2 separate regions of the Homo sapiens genome follow, and region 1 is linked to region 2. Evidence: fine-mapped expression QTL. Tissue or cell type: whole blood. Region 2 holds a variant in brackets; the other region holds the start of a gene. All regions are shown on one strand. Distances are from middle to middle.

What was found. PIP is the estimated chance that this variant, and not a neighbour inherited with it, causes the effect.
Region 1: it holds the start of FGD5-AS1, and the variant in region 2 is fine-mapped to the expression of FGD5-AS1 in whole blood (INTERVAL, PIP above 0.99).

Annotation. Positions count from the first base shown.
Region 1 is chr3:14,944,532-14,952,635 of GRCh38, forward strand. FGD5-AS1 (FGD5 antisense RNA 1) reads right to left here and starts at 3,910. Exons shown (of 2, transcript NR_046251.1): 1 at 3,482-3,910; 2 at 1-1,623. NR2C2 (nuclear receptor subfamily 2 group C member 2) reads left to right here and starts at 3,052. Exons shown (of 14, transcript NM_001291694.2): 1 at 3,052-3,375. RefSeq lists enhancers at 2,203-2,892, 3,581-4,268, 3,715-3,914, 4,269-4,956 and silencers at 2,675-3,104, 3,155-3,224, 3,245-3,664, 4,055-4,114.
Region 2 is chr3:15,063,493-15,071,596 of GRCh38, forward strand. It overlaps MRPS25 (mitochondrial ribosomal protein S25), which reads right to left and starts at 1,823. Exons shown (of 4, transcript NM_022497.5): 1 at 1,569-1,823. The coding sequence starts at 1,702. RBSN (rabenosyn, RAB effector) reads right to left here. Exons shown (of 14, transcript NM_022340.4): 14 at 6,581-8,104. RefSeq lists an enhancer at 1,803-1,982. The variant G/A (reference allele first, on the strand shown) is at 3,896.

The sequences.
Region 1 (8,104 bases), 120 kb before region 2:
TTAAAAACTTAGTATTTAAAAGAGTACACAACCAGGCAGGGTGTGGTGGCTCACGCCTGTAATCCTAACACTTTGGGAGGCCAAGATGGGAGGATCACTTGAGGCCAGGAGTTCGAGACCAGCCTGGTCAACACAGCGAGACCCCAACTTTTTTTTTTTTTGAGACAGTTTCGCTCATCGCCCAGGCTGGAGTGCAATGGTGTGATCTCGGCTCACTGCAACCTCTGCCTCCCGAGTTCAAATGATTCTCCTGTCGCAGCCTCATGAAGTAGCTGGAATTAGATGCCCGCCACCCCGCCTAGCTAATTTTTTTGTATTTTTAGTAGAGATGGGGTTTTACCATGTTAGTCAGGCTGGTCTTGAACTCCTGACCTCAGGTGATCCACCCACCTCACCTTCCCAAAATGCTGGGATTACAGGCATGAGCCACCATGCCCGGCCAATGCCATCTATTAAAAAAACAAAGAAAAAGAGTACACAACCACAAAGCACTGGGCCAAATGCATTGTTTCCATGTTTGCAAGGATTTACCATAGAAATATTAGGTTGATGCAAAAATTAAATTTCCAGACTGCGAATTTTAAATCATTGTAACTACGCTAAAACATATTCTATTAATCAAAACAGGAACCATTACAATCAACACATTTTTGCCAATGAGAAATGTTTGTTTATTCCTGTAGCATAAAAATCCGTGCTTCAGGATTTGACGAACTCTTGGAAAGCATTTTCTGCACCATGCTGAAGTGTTTTCCCTGCAAAAAGTTGTCAAGATGCTAGCAGAAGTGGTAGTCAGTTGGCGAAAGGTCAGGTGAATATGGTGGATGAGGCAAAACTTTGTAGCCCAATTCCTTCAACTTTTGAAGCACTGGTTGTGCGACACGCAGTCAGGTGTTGTCGTGGAGAAGAATTGGGCCCTTTCTGTTGACCAATGCAGGCAGCAGGTATTGCAGTTTTCGGTGCATCTTACCAATTTGCTGAGCATACTTCTCAGATGTAATGGTTTCACCAGGATTCAGAAAACTGTAGTGGATCAGATGGGCAGCAGACCACCGAACAGTGACCATGACCTTTTTTTTGGTGCAAGTTTGGCTTTGGGAACTGCTTTGGAGCTGCCTCTTGGTCCAACCACTGAGCTGGTTGTTGTATAAAATTCACTTTTCATTACATGTCACAATCCGATTGAGAAATGGTTTGTTGTTGCGTAGCATAAAAGAAGACTACACTTCAAAACGATAGTTTTGATTTCCGCTCAGCTCATGAGGCACCCACTTATCAAGCTTTTTCACCTTTCCAATTTGCTTCGAATGCTGAACGACCCTAATGACCGTAGAATAGTCAACGCTGAGTTCTTCTGTAATTTTTCATGTAGTTCAATGATTGCTCTCAATTGGTCGTTGTCAACTTCCCATGGCCCATATCACGTTCCTCATCTTCAAGGCTCTCTTCCTTGCAAAACTTCTTAAGCCACCACTGCACTGTATGTTTGTTAGCAGTTCCTGGGCCAAATGTGTTACTGATGTTTTGAGTTGTCTTCGCTGCTTTATGAACCATTTTGAACTCGAATAAGAAAACTGCTCCAAATTTGCTTTTTATCTAACATCATTAGACAAAAAGCATATTCTAAAATAAACAGCAATAAGTCATTAGCAAAAAAATAAAGTGAGAAATGTGCATTAAAATGATCCACATTTATTTAAGAATGTATTCCAATATCAAACAGCAAATTTCAAAAATGCAAAAACGCAATTGCTTTTGCCTCTCAGGTACATCACTTGACCTTTCTAGTTCTCACCCACTTCACCCCTAAAATCGGAAAATCTTTCTGCAAGAAAAAAATTTGACCACATTCCCTTAAGGCCTCTTCCAATTTCAAGAGCTGTGCTTTACCATGACAAAACGAACCTAGCTCTTTTCCCAATTTTGCAACGTCAGAAAAAGGAGGAAGGGGAAATAGCTGTGTTTAAAACATTTTTTACCAAATAGAAATATTATAAGATTATGGAAAAAAAAATACTAAATGTTGGAGTCATCCTGATAAAAACCCAAATGGATACTGTGTGGGAAAAAAAGTTAACCCATCCATTCTGGAGTCAATATTTATTCTTAATAAGCAAGAAAACTGAAGAAAAAAAATCAGTATAAGATCTACAGCCTGTAGCCTAAACACTTCAGGGCATTTAGGATAAATAAGCGCCTGCACCTTCCCAGGCAAGTCAAAACCACGACATAAAACAGAGAAATATGTAAGGAAAACCTACAGCCCAAGAGTTTAAGAGCAAGACAGGCCAATTTCTTCAAATAAATTTAAGCAATGCTGCTAAAAGCTGCTTTACACATCCCTATTACCATGTACTACTTCCAAATTTCGAGGAGGAGGGGCATGGAATTACACAAGATCTGGATCGTATGTTTACTAAGAAACCAAAAATTATAGGTTCTGGGGCGTTTCAACATTTCACCTGAGATGGCCAGAACGGGCGCATCTTTAGACCTTTAAAACCTAAATTAAAAACTATCAGTACCGAGGAAGGGCCGAAGAGCTCAATACCCACCCAATACAACCCCCACTTCCGACCTACAGACGCTCTGCTGAGCGGCTGGGAGAATCCGTCGCGCCAGTCAGGGCCCGGCTTCTTCCAACAACAGACACTTTGCGAGCCTTCCAGAAGCCTTGGCTAAGCGAGAAGGCAGGGTGGAGGCCGCCACTGCGAGGACGGTCCCCACCCAGCTGCGAGGAGCTCGCGGTTCCCCAGAGGGGCGGGCCTGCGTCCGGGTAACCGTGCGCGACGTCCACGAGTTTTTAGGACGACCAGCCCTTCAGCCTCTAGGCCCCGACGCCTGCGCCATTTAAGCCACATATCCGCCCGCCCGGCCGCGGCCAAGGCCGGCGGCAGCTACGTAGCCGCCGCCGCCCGGGGCCCCACAGCCCACGGGCCGGATGGACCGAGCGCCGGCTGCGGCGTTCCGGTGCGCGCGCGCGCCTCAGCCAATCGCGTTCTCGCCCGCCCCCCGCCGCGGCGGCGAGGCTGGCGCTGGGAAGAGGAAGAAGAACATTCGCCCTCCTCCTACCAGCGCGCGGGCGGCGGCGGCGGCGGCACCGGGGTCACGAACTCTGACCTTTCACTGACAAAAACAATAACAAACCCCCCCTTCTCCGCGACCCCGGCGGCGCCCCCGGGCCCGTCCCCGCCACCCCGCTCCCACCTCGGCGTCTCGTCTCTCGCCCGCTGCCCCGCGAGCCCGCGGCCCCCGGGCTCCCGCCATCCGCCGACACCGGGAGCCCGGGCTCCCCGCGCCCTGCCCTCCGCGCCGGGGGCCGCCCGCCGCAGACACGGGACCCGCTTCGAGGCCGCTTTGGCGCCAAATCCTGAGGTAAAATTGAAAGAGGGTCGGGCGGGCTCGGGCCGGCGGCGGAGGGGGCGGGCCTGGCGCGCGGACATGGAGGCGCCGCGGCGGCGGCTGAACCCGACCCTTTTACCTTTGCCACGGGGTGGCGGCGGCGGCGCCCGGCGCTTTGCATAGTGGGCCGGGCCGCTCCCCTCCCCTCCCCGCCCGCGGCCGGGCGAAGCGAGCGGGTTCCCCCTGACCGGCCCGGCCGGCGCAAGGGTGGGGGTGGAGGGGGAATGGCCGCGGCCCCGCCTTATAGTTGGCCCTCCGCCAGCGCCGCCATTTTGTTCTCGACGGAGATGGCTCCGGCTGGGCGGGCTCCCTTCCTCCTTATCCTCCTCCTCCTCCCGCCTGCAGTCCCTTCTTCCTTCTCTGCCGGGATTTTCACCCCTCCGCTTCTAGTCCGCCTTTGGCGGCCGTCGCAGCCCAACCGCCGTTTTTTCTGAAGGGGAGGGTAAAAGAAAAGGAGGAAGGCGGGTGCGAGGCGCGACCTCGTGAGCGACGGATGGGCTGGCTAATTGGCGCCCAGATAGGAGGGCCGGGGCCTGTGGCACCGCCCCCCTAAGCTTTGCTGATTGGCTGAGGCGGAAGAGGGTGGTCCTTATGGGGCGCGGGAGCCCTGGCGGGGCGGGAGTAGAGGCCGGGGCGAAGAGTGGGGCCGGGTCGGCGGGGGCGGGGCCGGGGGCGGGGCGCGAGGGGCGCGGCCGGGTGGAGAGGCCGGCGCCTGGTCTTGGGTCAGCAGGTGGGCTGCTTCCCTCCGCCTGGAACGCGTCTCGAATGAGTACTGAGGAACAATAGTAATAAAGGTGATGAAGCATTTCGAGTCCACGATGCGCTCTCGTGGGAAGAGGTTTTCGGAACCAGGACACTTTTCAGGGCTCCTGCTCGTTATTTCGCAGCGGCCTTGGCGAATCCCCTAATGAGGCTCAATTTTATCGACTGTAAATGGGGGGCATGCGCATTCTTGCCAGGCCGGACCTCCCTTCTGAGCATTGTTTGTGGGGCTCTACTCAGAAAATGGAGGCAACGCTACTTTGCGAGCTTCAGAGTCACTTGAAAATGGTGTTATTGTTAAAAATGGGATTACAGCCACCAGGAGAGGCAAGCGTTAAGGGTATTTGGGGTTTGAGAGAGCACAATTCGGGAGTGATTCTCTTCTCATTCGTTCGCTGAATACATGTTGACTTAGTTTTTTAGGCACTGGGGACACATCTGGAGAACCAGCTGTACAAGACCCCTGCCCTCACTAGAGTTGGGGGCTGGGGGGTGAATAGACAAATAATTCCAGAGAGTCATAAGTTCTGTGAAAGAAAAGAAGCCAAATGACCTGCTGAAGAAGACCTGAGGCGTTAATTTAGATGGAATGGTCAGGGTGGCCTCTCTGAGTAAGTGATGTTTGAACAGAGGAACCCAAGGGAGGAATGGCATTCCAGACAGGACATCCCGTGTAACGGCCCTGGAGGAAGAGCATTTGATGTGATCGAGAACTGGCTGCTTGTGGCTGGAGAGTTGGTTGGAACTAGTAATTGTCCATTATCCCACTTTGTTTCCAAGCCAAAGGCTGTGAAATATAGCAACGGTAGTGAGGAACAAATCTTCAATGTAATAAGAAAGTCGAGGAAAATACAGCCTTCATATGAATTACTGATGAATACATGACTTGGGAGGAGGGCCTCAGAAACTCACTTTACTTCCAGATTCAAATCCTTCGTCAGCCTCTTATATACATTTTCAGTTCATCAAGTATTTCCTGAGTGCTACGAATACTCCAGGCACTATGTGCTAGGCTGGGAATACAAAAAAGTAAGACACTGGTCCTCAAACATGTGAATATGATTTATTTATTTATTTATTTATTTTTTGAGACCAAGGTCTCACTCTGTCGCCCAGGCTGGAGTTGAATATAATTCTCTGTGTGTGAGTTCTCTCTTTCTCTCTCTCGAGATAGAGATATTTATACACATACATACACAGACATAAAATGTTTTAGTGTTGTGGTTAGCAACTCCCCAACTTTTACTAGCAGTGTGATTTTGTGTAAGCTACCTTTCCTAGCCTCACTGTCCTCATCTGGACAATAATAGAGCCTTCCTTCCTGAACTGAAGATTAGATGAGTTAATGTAAATAATAGAGCTTAGAAAAGTGCCTGACATGTAGCAAATACTGTGTAAATAGAGTTATTGTTGTCATTATGAACTACTGGTATAGACATTGGACTAATTAAGTGATATAAATAATGAAATTTTTATGCAGTGTGGTGTAGGGGCAAAAACAATAGATTCGAACACCGAGATTCTAGTTTTGGCTCTGTGCTTGCAGCTAGTTACATGGCATCCAGGACAAAAGTTTGGAAAACAAAATAATGGAACTAAATAGTACTAACCAAAGTATAGGGTGCTTTATGATTTACAGAACTCTCTTACAGGCAGTATGTTGTTCAGGCGCCACTAGAACCCACGTAATGGCAGAGGCTTCCTGTTCCATGTTTAAAAACCTTTCCAAGGCTTTTCATTATTTTCTTATCTGTGGTACCCCTAGCTTCCTGTGCTCTAGACACACTGGCCTACCTTCAACTTCCTTGACCAGTGTAGCTTACAGTGTAAGCTTACCCCCCACCCCCACCCTACCTCAGATATTGGCTCAAGCATCACTTCTTCAGGGAAGTCCTAATTCCCATTGCCAGTCTAAATCAGATTCTTTTTATTCTTTTCTTTATAATCTTTATCTCACTTTATAATTACACACTCTATTATGTGATTATTTGATTAATGTCTGTCCTTACCACACTGTAAGCTGTGAGAGCAGGAATACATTTTGTTTACCATTACTTATCCAGCACTTAGAAGAGTGCCTGGCACTATTTGTTGAATGAATTGTTGATAATTTATGATGTCACTGATAACTAAGTTGCTGTACATTGATGGATACCTTTTGTGTGAGCCTCTTTGGCAATTCAGATAGCACTGCCAGCAATAATAAGCCTGTTACGGTATTTGGTTGAATTTAGCAAGTGATTTCTGACAGATATGCCACTTTCTGGAGACATAAATATGGATAAAATGACCCATTTCAATAGTTTTTCCCACTCATTTTTTTATGATTGAATTACAAGTTTAAGTGCATGAAAGTTAATAAGTTCATATGTGAAGAAATAAATAGCCCAAACATAACTTATGTTATTTACTTTAGCTGAAGAAACGAAGCACTAAGCTACCATGATTTTCTTGAAATCAAATATTCTGATTTTTGTCTCACCATCACAGGGGATTGGAGAGAAGGAACAAGCCTCCAGTGGGTTCACAGGGAATTGGGAGTTGAAAGTCTCTGTAGCCATTAATTCGGGATATTTATCTTTCTAAAGATAAATTGATTCATTTAATGAAATTATTGAAAATCACCTTTTAATTGCTTTACCAAGGTTAAAAGCAAATTTTGTTAAGTATACATCAAGTTTCTACTCGAAAGTGTGGTAAATAAAACATTTGTATTAACTTATTTTATATTGTAAAACTTTTAAAATAAGATATTGTTATGGTATTTTAAAAATAATAATAGTTTAACTGTTTATTTTTGGGTTTTTTTTTCTGTCTTGCTCAAAGATTTTTGGTATCACTTGTTCAATTCCTTAAGCTAATTACTCAGGGTAACCAAAGAACTGCTAGTTTAGTAAAACAGCTATATGTTGTCTTACATCGTTAAGTTATTTATTGCTTTCAGTAGTTGTATTCACAGTGACTTTTAAGTTTTGTTTCGTGATCATTCTTTTATAGAAAATCCCTGTGCGTAACAACCTCCTCACTTTATGAGGATGGCTGGAAGTTTTTTTTGTGTGTTTTTTTTTGTTTTTGGGAGTCTCGCTCTGTCACCCAGGCTGGAGTGCAGTGGTGCGATCTCGGCTCACTGCAAGCTCTGCCTCCTGGGTTCACGCCATTCTTCTGCCTCCGCCTCCCCAGTGGCTGGGACTACAGGTGCCCGCCACCACGCCTGGCTAATTTTTGGATTTTTAGTAGAGACGGTGTTTCACCATGTTAGCCAGGATGGTCTCAAACTCCTGACCTCGTGATCCGCCTGCCTCGGCCTCCCAAAGTGCTGGGATTACAGGTGTGAGCCACTGCGCCCAGCAACTGGGAAGTTTTTAGCATCTGTCTCCAAGGAGTAACATGGCAAGGGCAGTGCAGTGACAGAGCTTGGGCTATGAAGGCAGAAAGGCCTGGCTTCAGAACCTGGAGTTGGTAGCCTCTCTGAGGCTTATAATTCCCCATTTGTCAAACAGGGAGGTGGGAGCCAGCATTGAGATTGGGGCCAGGGATAGCGGATACTTGTTGTCTGAATGACTTTGAGAACAAGGGAGGTGAGTCTTTGTGGAGCAGCCCTGTCTTCAGCCGTGGCACTGAGCCACTGGTCTGTGTCTAGCTGCCTGAGTGTCTCCACATATCGAGGGCCCTCCGTTGGGATTTTTATTGTTGAGTTCTCTTACCTATAAGCCATACGCTCCTTTAGTCCCAAACCATCTCCTGTACAAGTATCATCTTAAAAAATACCACACGGGGGGAGTCCGTGAAGGAATCTTAGAATCTCAGAATTGGAAGTGGTCTAGACCCCAAGTCCAGCCTTGATGTAAGGATCCCCTGCTAGATTTTCGTTTACCTCTTTTTACTTTATTGCTAATTATGAGGGCCTTAAATGATGCCTTTTTTCTTCCCTGTGTGATCA
Region 2 (8,104 bases):
CTAGCCAGAGCAAGGCAGACAGACTCCAACCCACGGGTACAAGATCACAGAGGGCACAGGTGGCACAGGCCAGCCCCTACCACCAGGAACAAAGAAACAGTGAATGGCTGTTTGTATCCCATTTACCTAGAGGACATTAAAATATCTGAGAATGTAAGTAAGAGGCTCACAGGCTTATTTTGATTGGCTGGCCATTTAAAAGCCAGAGATTTACATAAAAACCTAGATTTCAGCTTCTTGACAAATGAGAAATTCTCCACGGAGCCCACAATGCCAAACAGTGAAGGGCCCTCTGGATAGGGCATGTGCTCTCCAGCTCGCTGCGGGCCGCACCGAGACCCCCACCCCTTCCCATTATCTGCCTGGCAGTTGCCCGGGGACAAAGGTGTGCACAGTTGTGCAGTAGGTTATGAAGGAGTATCTGGGTGCCCATACACCCTAAGACCAAGACCAAGTCTTCCAGGAAGCCATCAAGCCAGCTGATTCCAGGCAAGCAGGTCCAAGTTATCAGATTCACCTGCGCAGAGCAAATGGCTAGGAAGCGGCTTCCGGATCTCTTGAAGGGCCATGCAGTGAAGGTCCGTCACCAAGGGGACCATGCCCCACAAGAAGTTGCTCCCCGCCCCCACGCCTCATTTTGATCCAACATACACCCAAGTCCCAAAGTTTCTGCGGGCTAAGGCTGCCTCCTCCATCACTGCTGAACTCCCAGCACACAGCACACAGCCTAGCACTCAGAGTGTACTCAATAAATGTAGACTTCATACCTGCAGAGCCTAAGGCACTGCTTAGGGCTGCCTCAGGGTCAATCCAAACCTTTCACTTGCCAACTGCCATTCAATGAGTCCCTACTCTGCTCCAAGCTGAAAGACATCCTAGGCGTTCCCTACAGTTCCTTCTAGTCGGGGTAGGGTCTGCCGCTGCACAGCTGACATAATTAATCACTTCCTTCCAAACCTTGAGTCCCGAAGGAAGCGGCCACACTGCCCGGCTCACCGCTCACCGGCTGGCATGGTGTCTCGTGGAGCTGCAAGTTACTTAACCTCTCTGTGCGCTTCCCCAGCCTTAGAGTGGGGATAAGCTGGGGTTTCTCTAGGCATCAGAAAAAAGAAAGCGCGAGAAGCATTCAGAACTGTGCGAGATATGATCAGTGTTCGCCGCTGTTATTTCTCTCATTTTATCCTCAGATTCGTCCTGGGGTGTCACCCCCGTCACCCCGAAAGGATCTGCGGCTGCCCCTCCCCAGCGCTTGCCTTGCTGGCCAGAGGGGCCAAGGGAACTGGTGGCCTCCCTCGGGTCAGCCTCGCCCACCGCGCCGGAGGAAGGAGATCCAGGAGTGGGGTTCTTGTCCTCCGCCCCCCAAACCTCGTCACGACTGCAGCCGGCCCGGCGGGGGCCCCGCCGTCCGCCTCAGTCTGGACCTCTGTAAAATGGGGGTAACAGCGCCGACCTGGGGGGCCCGCCCCGGGGATGAACGGCCGCCCAGAGCGACTCGGGACCTCACGTTACCAGCAGGCTGGCACGACTAGCAGGTTACGGCTCGCCAGGCGGCCGGGGCTGCGACTGACCTGGCGCCCTCGCCCAGCTCCCCATGCGTGTTGTAATTCACTGTCATGACCTTCACGGAGTCCTTGAACACCACGTTCCCCTGGCTCAGATATTGCAGGGTGCGGCGGATGGGGAAGCGGCCCTTCATGGGCATGGCGGCAACGGTGGCGGGGCCGACCCCACGGGCCGCGAGCCGAGCAGCGACGAGAAAGGACTAGCTAGCACCCGCGCGGATCTCACGCGGCTTCTCCCCAGAGCCAGGTTCCACTTCCCGCGCAGACGCACAGGAGACGCTTCCCGGCGGGCAGCGCACGCCGCGGAGCACTCTGGGACTTGTAGGCGGCCTTCGACCCGGCGCGGCGAGAACCGGTGTGTGCAGCTTCGCTTTAGGACGCCTTCCCCTTGGAAGGTTTAGGTTGTCGCGTCCTGTAAATTAGTCATTTCCCCATCCACCCACGGGAAAATATTTTTACATAGGCTAAAAGTCAGACATTGCAATAAGAAATAATCAGGAAAGCTCAGTTTGGATACCAAGTCAGCTGATAACGTCCTATTGAACGTATTGTCCATTTTTCTCCCCAAACATCTCCAGTTTTATCATGAAGAGTTCAAACTGCACTTTCTGACGTTGACTTAAACTTCTTAGCAAAAGAAAAAAAGATGGTTTGGGATCAATTCCTTCCTAAATTCAGCCACTTAACTCAGGACCTCAATTTTTTCGTAAACAAACTATGGGTGAGATGTATTTCTAGGGCCAGGCGCGGTGGCTCCCGCCTGTAAACCCAGCCTTTGGGGAAGCCGAGGCGGAAGGATCGCTTGAGGTCAGGAATTCGAGACCAGCCTGCCCAACATGGCGAAACCCCGTCTCTACTGAAAATACAAAAATTAGCCTGGTGTGGTGGCAGCACCTGTGGTCCCAGCTACTCAGAAGACTGAGGTGGGAGGATCGCTCGAACCCGGGAAGTTGCAGTGAGCCGAGATCGCGCCACTGCACTCCAGCCTGGGCGACAGAGCAAGACTCCCTCTCAAAAAAAAAAAAGATACATTTCTGAAGTACTCTTGATCTGAAAGGTATTTCTCCTTCTCTTTTGAAGAGTGATTTTGCCAGATTTAGAATTCTAGGTTAGTGTTTTTCCTTTCCCTCCCTCCCTTCTGGAGTGCAATGGTGCTATCTTGGCTCACCGCAACCTCCGCCTCCCAGGTTCAAGTGATTCTCCTGCCTCAGCCTCCCGAGTAGCCGGACTTACAGGCATGCGCCACTACACCCAGCTAATTTTGTATTGTCAGTAGAGACGGGGATTCTCCATGTTGGTCAGGCTGGTATCAAACTCCTGACCTCAGATGATCCGCCCGTCTCAGCTTCCCAAAGTGCTGGGATTACAGGCGTGAGCCACTGCGCCTGGCCCTGGTGTTTTTCTTTCAACAATTTAAATAGTTCACTCCACTCTTTTTTTGCTTGCATGGTTTCAAACAAGTAATTAAATGCAATTACATTTATAGGTATGATGGCTTTTTCCTTTAGCTTCTTTCAAATTTTCTCTTGGTGTTTGGTTTACGGGGTTAGAATAAGGTAATGCAGATCTGTAGATGTTTTGTATTTGTCCTGCTTGGAGTCCTCTGAGCCTCCTGGATCTGTGATTTCATGTCTGTCATTAATTTTGTAAAGTTCTTAGCCATTTATTAGTTCAGGTATTTATTCTTCACTCTTTTCTCTTTCTAGTATTCAAGTTAAATGCATTTTATGTCTTCTGGAATTGCCTCATAGTTCTCGAATGTTCTGGCGGGGTGATGGAGGTTCTCTTTGCATTTTAGTGGGGAAGTTTCTGTTGACCTATCTTCAAATTCATTTAATCTTTGGTTATGGACAGTCTACTGATAAGCCCATTAAGGCATTTTTCATTTAAGGTTTTAACTTCTAGCACTTCCTTTTGATTCTTAGGGTGTTTGTTTGTTTGTTTTGAGACAAAGTCTCTGTCACCCAGCCTGGAGTGCACTGGTGCAATCTCTGCTCACTGCAACCTCTACCTCCTGGGCTCAAGCAATTCTCCCACCTCTGCCACTTAGCTGGGACTACAGGTGCACACCACCATGCCTGGCTAATTTTTTTTTTTTTTTTTTTTGAGACGAAGTCTCGCTCTGTCACCCAGGCTGGAGTGCAATGGCACTATCTTGGCTCACTGCAACCTCTGCCTCCCAGGTTCAAATGATTCTCCTGCCTCAGCCTCCCAAGTGGCTGAGATTACAGGTGCCCACCACCACACCCAGCTAGTTTTTGTATTTTTAGTAGAGACAGGGTTTCACCATGTTGGCCAGGCTGGTCTTGAACTCCTGACCTCGTGATCCACCC[G/A]CATTGGCCTCCCAAAGTGCTGTGATTACAGTCATGAGCCACTGTGCCCAGTCTAATTTTTGTATTTTTAGTAGAGATGGGGTTTCACCTTGTTGGCCTGGCTGGTCTCAAACTCCTGACCTCAAGTGATCTGCCTGCCTCAGCCTCCCAAACTGCTGGGATTACAAGTGTGAACCACCACACCTCGCATGATTCTTAGTTTTCTTATGTCTGTTTACATTACCCATCTGTTCTTGTATGTTGTTTACTTTTACCATTAGACCCCTTAACAGACCACATTTTAAATTTCTTGTCTGATAATTCCAATATCTGAGTGTGATTCTGATGTTTGCTTTGTTTCATCTGATTGTTGGGTTTATTTTTTTCCTTGCCTTTTAGCATGCTTATAATTTTTTTGTTGAAGGTAGAATATCCACTCTATTGGGCCATAGGAACTGGGGTAAATAAGCCTCTAGAATGAGAACTTATGTTAATCTGGCTCAGAGTTGAGAGCTGTGTTTAATGTTTGCCATAGCTGTAGGTGTCAGAGGCTTCCAGTTCCTCTAGTGTCTTTGTGTTTATCTCCTCTTGCCTTTGGGCTTCCCTCGATATTCCTCCTGAGAGAGTCCGTGTCTTGCAGCTCTTCCAGGTATAATTCACTGTTACTATCCTGGAGTCCTGTTGATGTGGTGGAAAAACATGGGGGAGGTGAAGCATTCTATAATCTTACGATTAAATCTCAGCATTTTAGTGGGCTTGTGTCCTTGGGCTGTGACCTACACAAGTGTTCTTTCCTTTTTTTTTCTTTTTCTTTTTTTTTTTTTTTTTTGAGGCAGTGTCTTGCTCTATCACCCAGGCTAGAGCGCAGTACAGTGGCGCAATCACAGCTCACTGCAGCCTCTACTTCCCAGGCTCAAGCAATTCTCCCACCTCAGCCCCGAGTAGCTTGGACTATGGCATGTGCCACAATGCCTGGTTAATTTTTGTATTTTTTGTAAAGATGAGGTTTTGCTATATTGCCCAGACTGGTCTTGAACTCCCGGGCTCAAGCAATCTGCCCACCTTGGCCTCCCAAAGTGCTGGAATTACAGGCGTGAGCCACCGCACTGGCCCACAAGTGTTTCTTAGTTCCCCTTTGTACCCCCTTACATGACCCAGCCCTCCTCCAGATGGATAAGGCTCTGTGAAAAAGTGCTTTCCTCTGGGGAATAAGCTTTATTATGGAGAAGGCTCTGATTACAAAGATGATTCTCCCTTTCCCCTGCCAGAGTCACCAGAGGGTCTTCCTCAGCTCTTCACCAATAGAACCAAGTAGGGTAAAACCCAGGAAAGCGTTGGGGGTGAGGGGGAGTTGCTCCCTCCCATGCTAGTCCACACTCAACCTCCAGCAGTTCATCAAAATTACCATTTAAGTTTTCCTACTAGCTATGGCTCCCGTGGCTTCTGCTCCAGGCAATTAGATCTTGCTCACTCTCTGGACTCACCTCTCTCTAGATTTTGGGATGGCAGTTTGACCTGCACACTCAGCTCTCTAATGGGACCAAGAAAGGCCAATGCTTTTGAGTTTGCCCAGCTTTTTCTTGTGGTAAGGATAGGATAACTTTCAAACTCTACGTGTCTGAGCTAAAACCAGAAGTGCTTTCTGAAGTATTTTTACAACTACGCTAGGCTTCCTGAAGAGTTAGGCAGAAGTTTTTCATCTTAAAAGTCCACAGGAGGCACTTGCTAGGGATGAAACACCCCATTCCACATTAGAAACATGGGTGTCCACATACAACACAATCTAGGGCAGCTTGGGTTTTGCAGTCAGACAGACCTAGGCTGGAAACCCAGCAGTGCAACCCTAAGCAAGCTTAACTTCACCACTCACTCATTTCTGCATGTGTAAATGGGTTGTTGGGAAGACTGAGGTAAGCCATGCGTAATACTTAGCACTCAGTCTAGCCTACAGTGAGCACTAGATATTATACTCTCCTGGTTTAAGAATCTATATATTCTTAAGGCCCTAAGGAGGTCTCAGTTTCACAGACTCAGGCAGTCACTATCGGAAACCAGCTCAGCAGCACCCAACCTCATTCCCCATTGCCCTTTTCTGCCCTCTTTGAGCTTGACACAATGGTTGAGCACCCACCACCACCACACCACTACCTGACCCAGCTACTTATTACTGAGGGCAAATTAAGTCAGGCAGATCTGGATTTAAACCCTCATTCCACCACTGACTGGCTGTGTGGCCTAAGCCAGGCTAATCTCTCTTAACTTTTCTACGTCTGGGGTCAGATGAACAGCTGAGTAACTACCTCACAGGCATGCTGGTAGTGCTAATGGAGGGAAATGTGGTCATGCAGAGGTGGTGACTGGCACAGATGGCAGTCACAAGGTTCCTCAATCTCTGAGCCTCAGTTTCTTCCAGTGTGAAACTGGGATGATAGGATCATTAAGGGATCTGCACTATACTTCTGTAAAACTGTTCATTTAACCAGCACTGCAGGAATAACTGGGAATAAGGGCAGAACTGGAACCCGTATCTATCCCCTGTTCAGAACCCAGTGACCTTCATTTTTTCCAGAGGCCTTAACCAGACAAACAACACAGGTGCTGGAACTATTCTGATACTCAGATGGTTGTCATCAAGAAAGGAGAAGGGATGTCATCTGATGATTCTCACTTGTAACACATGTGCACACAGACACACACACCCCCAACCTCTATCTCAGATTTTATTTTTTTTAAAAAAGGCTCCAATACAAGGCCCCAGAGTAGTGCATGCAAATCAACGACCCTCAAAGTGACAGTCATTGTCAGATAACAAGCACAATCTGCTACAGTCTGTGACCTGGTAAAGAGACCACCTTTTCATTTTGAGTCCCATCACCAACTATGCCAATGTCCAACCTACCACACAGCTCACAATGACTCAGAGGTACATTTTAGTATCTGAACAGCAAAGACATATTGAGCTGCAAGTACAATGAGTAAGTATCCTTAGTGTATTAGACAGGGTAAATACAAACAAGGCATAAAAGGGAAAAGCCAACTTCATCTGATGCCTGAATCCCTAAGTCTCTTCCATCTTTTCTCATGATCTGTGTCTAGGGAGATCTGCTATGCCATATCAAGACCTTGCTCATCTGGTGATGAGACGGGGCTGTTTGCCTTGGAAGACTAAAGAAAGGGTGAATATTCACATGAGGTAAGAACTTGAAGTTGTGGTTATAATACATAGGCCAAGTTTGCCTGCTGTCAACCCATCTCTGTAACTCCAACTTTGTGCCTGCATGAATTCTGCGACATGGTACAGCTGATGGGTAGAGAATTCTAACTCCTGTGATGTATTTACAGGAGAAGATAATCGTGGAAGAATTAAATGGAAGAATTCATAGAAGAATACAGCCATGGATAAACTTAATCAAAAGAATATGATTTTAGTTTGGTTTAGTATATTCAATCAGTCAGTTTTGTTTGTTTTTTGTGAGACGGAGTCTTGCTCTTGTCACCCAGGTTGGAGTGCAGTGGCGCAATCTTGGCTCACTGCAACCTCCGCCTCCCAGGTTCAAGCGATTCTCGTGCCTCAGCCTCCCTGAGTAGCTGGGATTACAGGCGTCTGCCACCACGCCCAGCTAATTTTTGTATTTTTAGTAGACACGGGGTTTCACCATGTTGGCCATGCTAGTCTCAAATTCCTGACCTCAGGTGATCCACCCGTCTCGGCCTCCCAAAGTGCTGGGATTACAGGAGTGAGCCACTGCACCCGGCCAGGCCTTTAAAAATAGTTTTTAAAAATGTTTCTTGTGTGTTTTTCAATGCTTTTAGTTACTTACAGATTGCTACCTGAGGTGATTTGAGGGAAGGGTATGTTTAGTGAATTAGTCTTAATCAAAATCACTAGCTAATTAAAAGAGAAATGTTCTCACAAGAAAAATAATTATGATGGAAAGCAGCAATTAGCTTCTGGAACTACCTGCTTTTCAGTTCATCCTCTTTTCAGAGAAATGAGACCCTAAGCAGGGAGGAGCCTACTGGCCATCTGAGAAACCCTCTAGAGTAACAGAGAAATGTCATGGGCCTCAGGGAAGAAAAGAGGCCTGTACCAGGCAACATCTTAGATGCCTGGTTGCCAACTTCTCAAAACAACCCATAACAACCAGCAGGGTTGGTAACTGGCTGACATTCATTAACACACTCATATGGCTGTTTGTGAACAGATCCCAAATGCAAAGCGTCCTTCAC